Regions from separate parts of the Homo sapiens genome. Here region 1 is linked to region 2. The links come from fine-mapping of genetic effects on gene expression. A gene starts in region 2. The other region holds a variant in brackets. All regions are shown on one strand. Distances are between the middles of the regions.

Region 1 (4,000 bases), 460 kb before region 2:
TCCCCGGAGAACCCTCCCCTGGAGAACCCTCCCCTGGAGAACATTCCCCTGGAGAACCCTCCCCTGGAGAACCCTCCCCTGGAGAACCCTCCCCTGGAGAACATTCCCCTGGAGAACCCTCCCCTGGAGAACCCTCCCCTGGAGAACACTCCCCTGGAGAACATTCCCCTGGAGAACCCCCACCAGGCTGGGCTTCCTAGGGTTCCACAGCTTCCCGAGAGTAAGGCCAGGGTGAGGAGGGGAGAGTGGCGGGTCGGGGGCTGAAGCCCGGGCGAAAGGGTGAAGAGCAGATTCCGCCCACGCGTGCCGTGCTGAGGGCCCTGGAGTCCCGAGCGGGGCCAGGTCAGCATCCATCCCCGCCCAGTACTCACTCGTCAATCCTGTCCGGGAAGCCCCAGCAGTGGCGGGGGTCACTGTCGCCATGCCCTGTGTGGATGAAGCTGTTCTGCAGGGGCTGGCTGATGTCCTGGGCCGACAGGCCGGCCACGGAGGTCACCACGTTGCGAGGGAAGGGCCCCACACACAGCGTCCGTGTGTTCTGGCCACGCCACCAGTAGTTCTCGGCCCTGCGCGACAGAGATGGCACGGTGAACGCCAGGCGTGGCGGGGCAGCCCCGGCACTGGGACCCTCCTCACACCCTGGCCACTGTGGCAGAAGGGGGATGGAGCTCAGGCCTCAGGACCAGGCTGTGTGCCACCGGCCCTCCTCCCCAACAGCCCCCGTGACCCACCATGCCCCGTACAGGCCTGTTTGCACACGGCCTTACCCACAACTCTCTAGGTGGGTCAGGCAGCTTTCCCTATGGTTTGCAAATAAGGAGGCACGCTGGAAGCTGCTGCAGCAGGCAACATGACCTGTCCACGGTTACCAGAAAGATCCCAGCAGACCTGGGACCCAACGCCAGCTTTCAGGTCTGTGGGGCCAGCGCCCCGCCCACACCTCCTCCTCACCCCTCAGTTCCCTGGCAAGGCCGGGGCCCCAGTCCTCTTCTGGCCACTTGATTTCACTCCTCGGCTGGGTTCCAGGAGTTCTGAGAGGTGCGGGGGTGCCGGGGGACACCTAGGGCCTTGCACTAGGCTGGGGGCCAGGCCTCCAGCTACAACCTGCCTCCCGAATGCAGACGCGGGAGAGTCTAGGAGCACTCGGGCAACTCAGTCCCTCCCTCCACCGCTTCACCTGCTTCCGGAGCTTTCCACCACCTCCCGGAAGGCCTGCGGGAGCCTCCCCGTCTCCTCAGGAGGGGCTCTACCTGTGTCCAAAAGGGAACTCAGCTCTCCCACAGTGACCAGACAGTAGGGCTGCCAGTCCCCCTCTGACCTCAGACACGAAACCTCTGCTGATGTGGCCTAAGCCGGGGCCTGGGCAGGGGCAGGGGCAGGGGCAGGGGCAGGCAGGCCAGGAAGCACAGGGCTCCCGCAAGACACTCCTGACTCCCGAAGGCTCTCACAGGTTGTGAGGCTCCCGCGTCTGCTGCTGGACTTGTCATACGTGATGCCGTGAGCAGAGTCTGGGCAGGCGGGGGCGGTGAGAGCCCCGTGGGCAGTGTCTGGGCAGGCGGGGGCGGTGAGAGCCCCGTGGGCAGTGTCTGGGCAGGCGGGGGCGGTGACAGCCCCGTGGGCAGAGTCTGGGCACGCGGGGGCGGTGACAGCCCAGAGCTGCTAGGGTGGACACGTGTGGCACCACACTGCACGCCCTCCCCACCAACCCCCACTTCTCCTGTCCCAGGGCCAAAGCGTGAAGAAGGGCTCCTCTGAAACCCAGCCAGGCCGGGGAGAGAGGACGGAGGAGGTGGCGACGCCTGGGCACCCAGACCCACAGCCTTGTAAGGTGACGAGGCCTGGCTGGAGCGGGGTGACTCCGGAACAGCCCATCCCAGAGACCAAAGTCAAACCCGAGAGCACCACGGTCGGCGGGGAGGCGGGGGGCGCGGGGCGCGGGGAGACGGGGCTGTGCTCCCCCTGCCCAGCCTCCTCATACACAGGGCCACTGGCCTGGCCCCACCACACACAGCCACCCTGTGATTCCCACCCTGCCTGCAGGGAGGGAAGGAAGGAGAGAGGACAGTACCCCGAGACGAGACGAGTCCCATCTGAAAAATAGCAGGGCCACTCGAAGGAGCAGAGCCCCGGCTCCCCAGCACGCACACAGCCTCCCACGGCGGCCCGTAGAGGAGGAACCCCGGCACCGGCTGGGCTGCGGCTCTCCCGCTACACCCACGGGCTCCCCGGTGGCTGCCGCGGGCCAGACGCCGGACTCTGCTCTCCACACCTCTTCAGAGGCGCTCAGTAACTGGG[T/C]GAGAATGCCGCTGAGGCCGAGACCTTGCTCAGAGCAGCGTGACTCGTGCCCAAGGCAGGTCACTCCGTCTGGCCTCTCCCTTCCGCCAACACTGCCCAGCTCCAGGCACAGAAGCCTCCTTTGGGACCCACTTCTGAGAGGGAAAGGAGACATCAAGCCCACCTCCCTTAGTGCAGGTATGGCCGAGGCAAGAGCCCCCATGGCTGCTGGGAGTCCTGACACCACTCGAGAAAACATGCTTGCTCCTGGGGGAAGGAGAGTAAGAGTGCGGAGGACGTGTGCAAGAAGCTCCCCTCGGGATGGCGCCCACGCACACTCCGAGGCACAAGAAACTCCCCCTCGGGATGGCGCCCACGCACGCTCCGAGGCACAAGAAGCTCCCCCTCGGGATGGCGCCCACGCACACTCCGAGGCACAAGAAGCTCCCCTCGGGATGGCGCCCACGCACACTCCGAGGCACAAGAAGCTCCCCTCGGGATGGCGCCCACGCACGCTCCGAGGCACAAGAAACTCTCCCTCGGGATGGCGCCCACGCACGCTCCGAGGCACAGGAAGCTCCCCTCGGGATGGCGCCCACGCACGCTCCGAGGCACAGGAAGCTCCCCTCGGGATGGCGCCCACGCACACTCCGAGGCACAAGAAGCTCCCCTCGGGATGGCGCCCACGCACGCTCCGAGGCACAAGAAACTCCCCCTCGGGATGGCGCCCACGCACGCTCCGAGGCACAAGAAGCTCCCCTCGGGATGGCGCCCACGCACACTCCGAGGCACAAGAAGCTCCCCTCGGGATGGCGCCCACGCACGCTCCGAGGCACAAGAAACTCCCCCTCGGGATGGCGCCCACGCACGCTCGGAGGCACAGGAAGCTCCCCCTCGGGATGGCGCCCACGCACACTCCGAGGCACAAGAAGCTCCCCTCGGGATGGCGCCCACGCACACTCCGAGGCACAAGAAGCTCCCCTCGGGATGGCGCCCACGCACGCTCCGAGGCACAAGAAACTCCCCCTCGGGATGGCGCCCACGCACGCTCCGAGGCACAGGAAGCTCCCCTCGGGATGGCGCCCACGCACGCTCCGAGGCACACGAAGCTCCCCTCGGGATGGCGCCCACGCACGCTCCGAGGCACAAGAAACTCCCCCTCGGGATGGCGCCCACGCACGCTCCGAGGCACAAGAAACTCCCCCTCGGGATGGCGCCCACGCACGCTCCGAGGCACAAGAAGCTCCCCCTCGGGATGGCGCCCACGCACGCTCGGAGGCACAGGAAGCTCCCCCTCGGGATGGCGCCCACGCACACTCCAAGGCAGCTTCATCCCAAGGCTCCAGTGGGACTTCCAAGAGGACCGTGTCACTTCTCGCAGCCCACACGCACCCGTGTGAGGCTCAGTGTGGCCGAGGCACCAGCAGTCCAGAGGGGACTGAGGCCAGCCCTTCCTTCCAGGCCCGCCCTGTCCGCGCCCTCTCTCTCCCGCCATGAACAGGCCGGAGTCCCCGTGGCCATGGGAGGGCCAGGGCTGCTACCCGGCCGTGACTGAAGCAGGGGCGGATGAGGACTTCCTGGGGGAGCAGGAAAAGGGCCCAACACCTCCGCATGAACCTTCTACCTCCTGCTGCCCCCGGGCCTCTGGTCAACATCTCTGGGGTAGACAAGATGGAAAACAGAGGCCGGTGCTGAGAACTGCCTAAGGCTGCCCCAGCTCTGGAAA
Region 2 (4,502 bases):
GTGCGGGGCTTGCAGTGTGTAATTCTGTGTTGAGGCAAATTAACCACCCAGGGTGTTAACAACTCACAACTTTAATCCACTGCCCACCCAGATGTCTGACCGGGGCCCAAGGAAAGATGGGTGTGTGGTTGGCCTTTCAAGCGGGTGCTCTAGATCATGGGGCCAGGAGACGCCGTTGTGCAGGAATGCATTTAGTGCCTTCAAATCACGGCACCTCTGAGAAAGCACCGTCTACACACTTCAGCAACATCAACCCCCCTGACGATCTCTTCTACAGAAAACGTTCCCATCAGAAAAGTCTGTTTTTTTTGTTTTTGTTTTTGTTTTGTTTTTTGTTTTTTTTTTGAGACAGAGTTTCACTCTTGTTGCCCAGGCTGGAGTGCAATGGCGCGGCCTCAGCTCACTGCTACCTCCGCCTCCTGGGTTCAAGTGATTCTCCTGCCTCAGACTCCTGAGTAGCTGGGATTACAGGTGCACACCACTACGCCCGGCTAATTTTGTATTTTTAGTAGAGATGGGGTTTCTCCAGGTTAGCCACGCTGGTCTTGAACTCCTGACCTCAGGTGATTCACCTACCTTGGCCTCCTAAAGTGCTGGGATTACAGGTGTGAGCCACAGCGCCCAGCCCAGAAAACTCTTAAAGGGGAAACTAAAAATGATGGACAGCGAGGGAAAACTACCAGCTGGAGCATGGCTTTTGGATGAGTGGAATTCAGAGCCCTGGCTGTCCGCCAATCAAACACTAAAAGCACTTGCCGCACTGCGGCTTCGTGTGAATTTCACCCCTCCTCCTGACTTTATTCCCCTAGAAATTATAACATTTGGAGAAACCCTTCCAAAAATGTGAACCAGGAGGTTAGCAAAGAGGTGGCCTAATTTGATATCTGAAGAGACAAGCAAGATCAGAAGGTAAAACCTTAAAACCAGGCTGCTGGGGAGTTCCTTGTTCTGTCCTGAGGTCCTAGCTAGGTGAGCACGTCATCGGCTAGATGTCCAGGCAACAACAGAAGTGATCGGCTCAATTCCATGGAGGAAGAGACCGCACATTCTCTACATCTGTGTCTCTCCCTCGCCACCCAGCAAGGCTTTTCTTTCATTCTTCCTTCAGTCGGATATTTATTAAGTGATCACTACCTGACAGACACTTGGGGGGCTAGGGATATAACGATGAAAAAGATGTAATCCCTTTCCTTGAGGAGCTTAAAGTCTAGTGGGGACACTGCTGACGCAAAAAGCAATTCTTTTTTTTTTTTTTTTTTTTTTTTTTTGAGACACAGTCTCGCTCTTGTTGCCCAGGCTGGAGTGCAGCGGCATGCTCTTGGCTCACTGCAACCTCCGCCTCTCGGGTTCAAGTTATTCTCCTGCCTCAGCCTCCCAAGTAGCTGGAATTACAGGCATGCACCACGCCCGGCTAATTTTGTATTTTTAGTAGTGATGGGTTTTCGCCATGTGGGTCAGGCTGGCCAAAAAGTAATTCTAATCAAGTGTGGTAAGAAATAGAGCAGACATGAGCAGGGCGGGAGAGGGCCTCTACCCCAGTAATGTCAGGTGACTATCAGGTGATGGCCAGGCGGTTGTTACACTGTCTTTCTAAAATAATATTGGTCACAGCCAGCGTTGGGAAAGACAGTCTCCCAATAGATAGAAAATACCTGAACTTGGTGATCAGCAGCTTCCTGGTAAGAGCTCAGGAATTGGGCGAGTGGGCTCAAGCATCTACACTAAGAAGCAAAATGGTGGAGTTTAGCTGGTGTGTGTGACCTTCCTCTAGTGCTGCTCCGCGGGTAAGGGAAAAACGCCTCAAGTGAGCATGCGCACGACTTCAGTAAACACACTGCGCATGCGGCCCCTCCCAAGTGCCTGTGCGGCAGGCAGGCGCCAAGTCAAGGGTCTAACAGCACATTTGGGTGTCTCAAGTCACGCACTTGGCCCTTTTCCAAGTGTACTTTACTTCCTTTCATTGCTGCTCAAAAACTTTTTAATAAACCTTCACTCCTGCTCTCAAACTTGCTTCAGCCTCTCCCTCTGCCTTAAACCCACTTCTGCCCCTCAGCCGAATCTCTCCCCCGAGAAGGCAAGGATTGAGTTTGCTGCAGACTCGCTGGATTCACAGCTGGTAACAGTAAGTACCAGGCAGGGGCATCCAACTTAAGGTGTCATGGAAGCACATGGAGGAACCTAATCCTATCTGGCAGAAGCAAAACGAAGCTTCCCGGAGGAAGGGCTGCCCATGCCCAAACTTGATGGACGATGAGATACTAGGCAGGAAGAGTATTCTAGGTGCAAAGGCCAGAAGTTGACAGACTGAGGCAACAGGAGAAGGTAAGTGAATGGCGCAAAGTCACACAGACGCCAAGCTGCAGAGCCAGGCTCACTGGAGTGGAAGCGTGCACTCTCATCTGTGAGGCTAGGCTGTTCCCTGGCCGTCACCTCACCCTTTCATCTCTGCTTACCTGCATCTGGTGTCAAGAATCAGAATGGGAGAGACAGAACCTGGAGAAAGGCTGCGTCTTCAGAGTGGGGCTCCACTCCTCCAGCTCCAGGGCTGGACCTGAAGGTTGTCTTTCCAGGACTCTTTCCAGGAGGGCCAGGGAGGCTCTGTATATACGTAGAGGTCACCCAGGCGTGTGTGTGTGCGCGCCCCCACGCCCCTGCCCACAGGCCTGCATTGAAGGCGCTTCCGCTCCCCGGAGAGCCCTGTCCTGATGACCCACCCTCTGCTCATTTTCATGTGATTCTAAGGCAGGAAACGGGAGACATGGCCTCATGAGCTCCGCTGTCCTGATGAGTCACTGGATGCACCCGTGAGAAACACCTCACCCTCCGCTCTCCCCAGGCAGCAACACTTGCCACACCCCAGCTGTTCCTGTCCTCATCTGCCACCCCGCGAAGAATTTCGGCTCTTTGACAGAACAGCACCGAGCAGGGCAGCCACCCCTTTTTCCTCATCACTCTCCTTACCTTGCCCTTGGCTGACTCGATGTGTTGCATGGTTCCTGTACTAGACGTCTAACTTTTTTTTTTTTTTTTTTTTGAGACAGGGTCTCACTCTGTCACCCAGGCTGGAGTGCAGTGGCATGATCTCGGCTCACTGCAACCTCCGCCTCCCACACTCAAGCAATCCTCCCACCTCAGCCTCCTGAGTAGCTGGGATTACAGGCACCTGCCACCATGCCCGGCTAATGTTTGTATTTTTAATAGAGACGGGGTTTTGCCATTTTGGCCAGGCTGGTCTCGAACTGCTGACCTCAGGTGTTCGCCTCAGCCTCCCAAAGTGCTGAGATTACAGGTGTGAGCCACCGCACTCAGCCTCTTGTTCAAGCCCCAGGCCACTATCATCTTGTACCATACTCTCACCAAATTGCTGAGGATTTTGTGGTGCTCTCTGTGTGGGAGATCCGTGACCCTCTATGGACAAGCTCCTATTCAAGATTCAGTTCAAACATTCCCAGTGAAGTCTGCCAGGATTTCTTTACTCCGAGTTAGGTACTTCTTTCTCTATGCTCCCATTGCATTTTAAACATCTAGATATTATATACAGTAAAGTGCACAAATCTTTTCTTTTCTTTTTTTTTTTTTTGAGACGGAGTTTCACTCTTGTTCCCAGGCTGGAGTGCAGTGGCACAATCTCAGCTCACTGCAACCTCTGCCTCCTGGCTTCAAGCAATTCTCCTGCCTCAGCCTCCCAAGTAGCTGGGATTACAGGCACGTGCCACCACGCCTGGCTAATTTTGTATTTTTAGTAGAAACACGGTTTCTCCATGTTGGTCAGGCTGGTCTCAAACTCCCGACCTCAGGCGATCCACCCGCCTCCGCCTCCCAAAGTGCTGGGATTACAGGTGTGAGCCAGCACGCCCAGCCTAAAGTGCACAAATCTTAATGTTAAAGTCTGATGAATTTTTACATGTATACCCTGGTGAACCAGCACAGAAATCAAGATACAGGACATTCCAAATCCCCAGAGGTTTCATTGTGTCGCCTGTCATTCGTATCCCTTGTCCCCAGTGTTAACTTTCATTTTGGCTCTTATAATAATTGATTAGGTTTTAGTTGTTCTTGAATTTCACATAAATGGAATCAAACAGTTTTCTTTAAAAAAAAAAAAAAAAAAGGCGGTTTTGCTGTGTCATCCAGGCGGGAGTGCAGTGGCACAATCATGACTCACTGCAGCCTTTTGCCTTCATAGGCTCAAGTGATCCTCACACTTCAGCCTCCTGAGTAGCTGGGACCACAGGCAAGCGCCACCACGCCAGCTGATTTTTTAATTTCGTGTACAGATGGGGTCTCACCATGTAGCCCAGTCTGGTCTCGAACTCCTAGGCTCAAGTGATCCTCCTGCCTCGGCCTCCCAAAGTGCTGGATTACAAGCGTGCGCCACCGCGCCCAGCCCAGTATGGCTTTTGTGTGTGGCTTTCTTCACTCAATATTCTATATGTAAGATTCATCCATCATGTAATTTATTTTTCTTTTATTGCTGAGTATTATTACATTGGATATTACAA

The links. PIP is the estimated chance that this variant, and not a neighbour inherited with it, causes the effect. A credible set is the group of variants that fine-mapping cannot tell apart.
Region 1: its variant is the best candidate, but not a certain one, in a credible set for the expression of TM4SF19 in visceral fat (GTEx, PIP 0.61).

The regions. Positions count from the first base shown.
Region 1 is chr3:195,871,905-195,875,904 of GRCh38, forward strand. TNK2 (tyrosine kinase non receptor 2) reads right to left here. Exons shown (of 16, transcript NM_001382273.1): 10 at 372-566. Among named protein-coding and RNA genes, the nearest start is that of MIR6829, 8.5 kb to the right of the region's middle. The variant T/C (reference allele first, on the strand shown) is at 2,296.
Region 2 is chr3:196,335,811-196,340,312 of GRCh38, forward strand. It overlaps TM4SF19 (transmembrane 4 L six family member 19), which reads right to left and starts at 2,578. Exons shown (of 5, transcript NM_138461.4): 1 at 2,454-2,578. It overlaps TM4SF19-DYNLT2B (TM4SF19-DYNLT2B readthrough (NMD candidate)), which reads right to left and starts at 2,610. Exons shown (of 6, transcript NR_037950.1): 1 at 2,454-2,610. RefSeq lists enhancers at 2,102-3,301, 2,668-2,962 and a silencer at 2,711-2,882.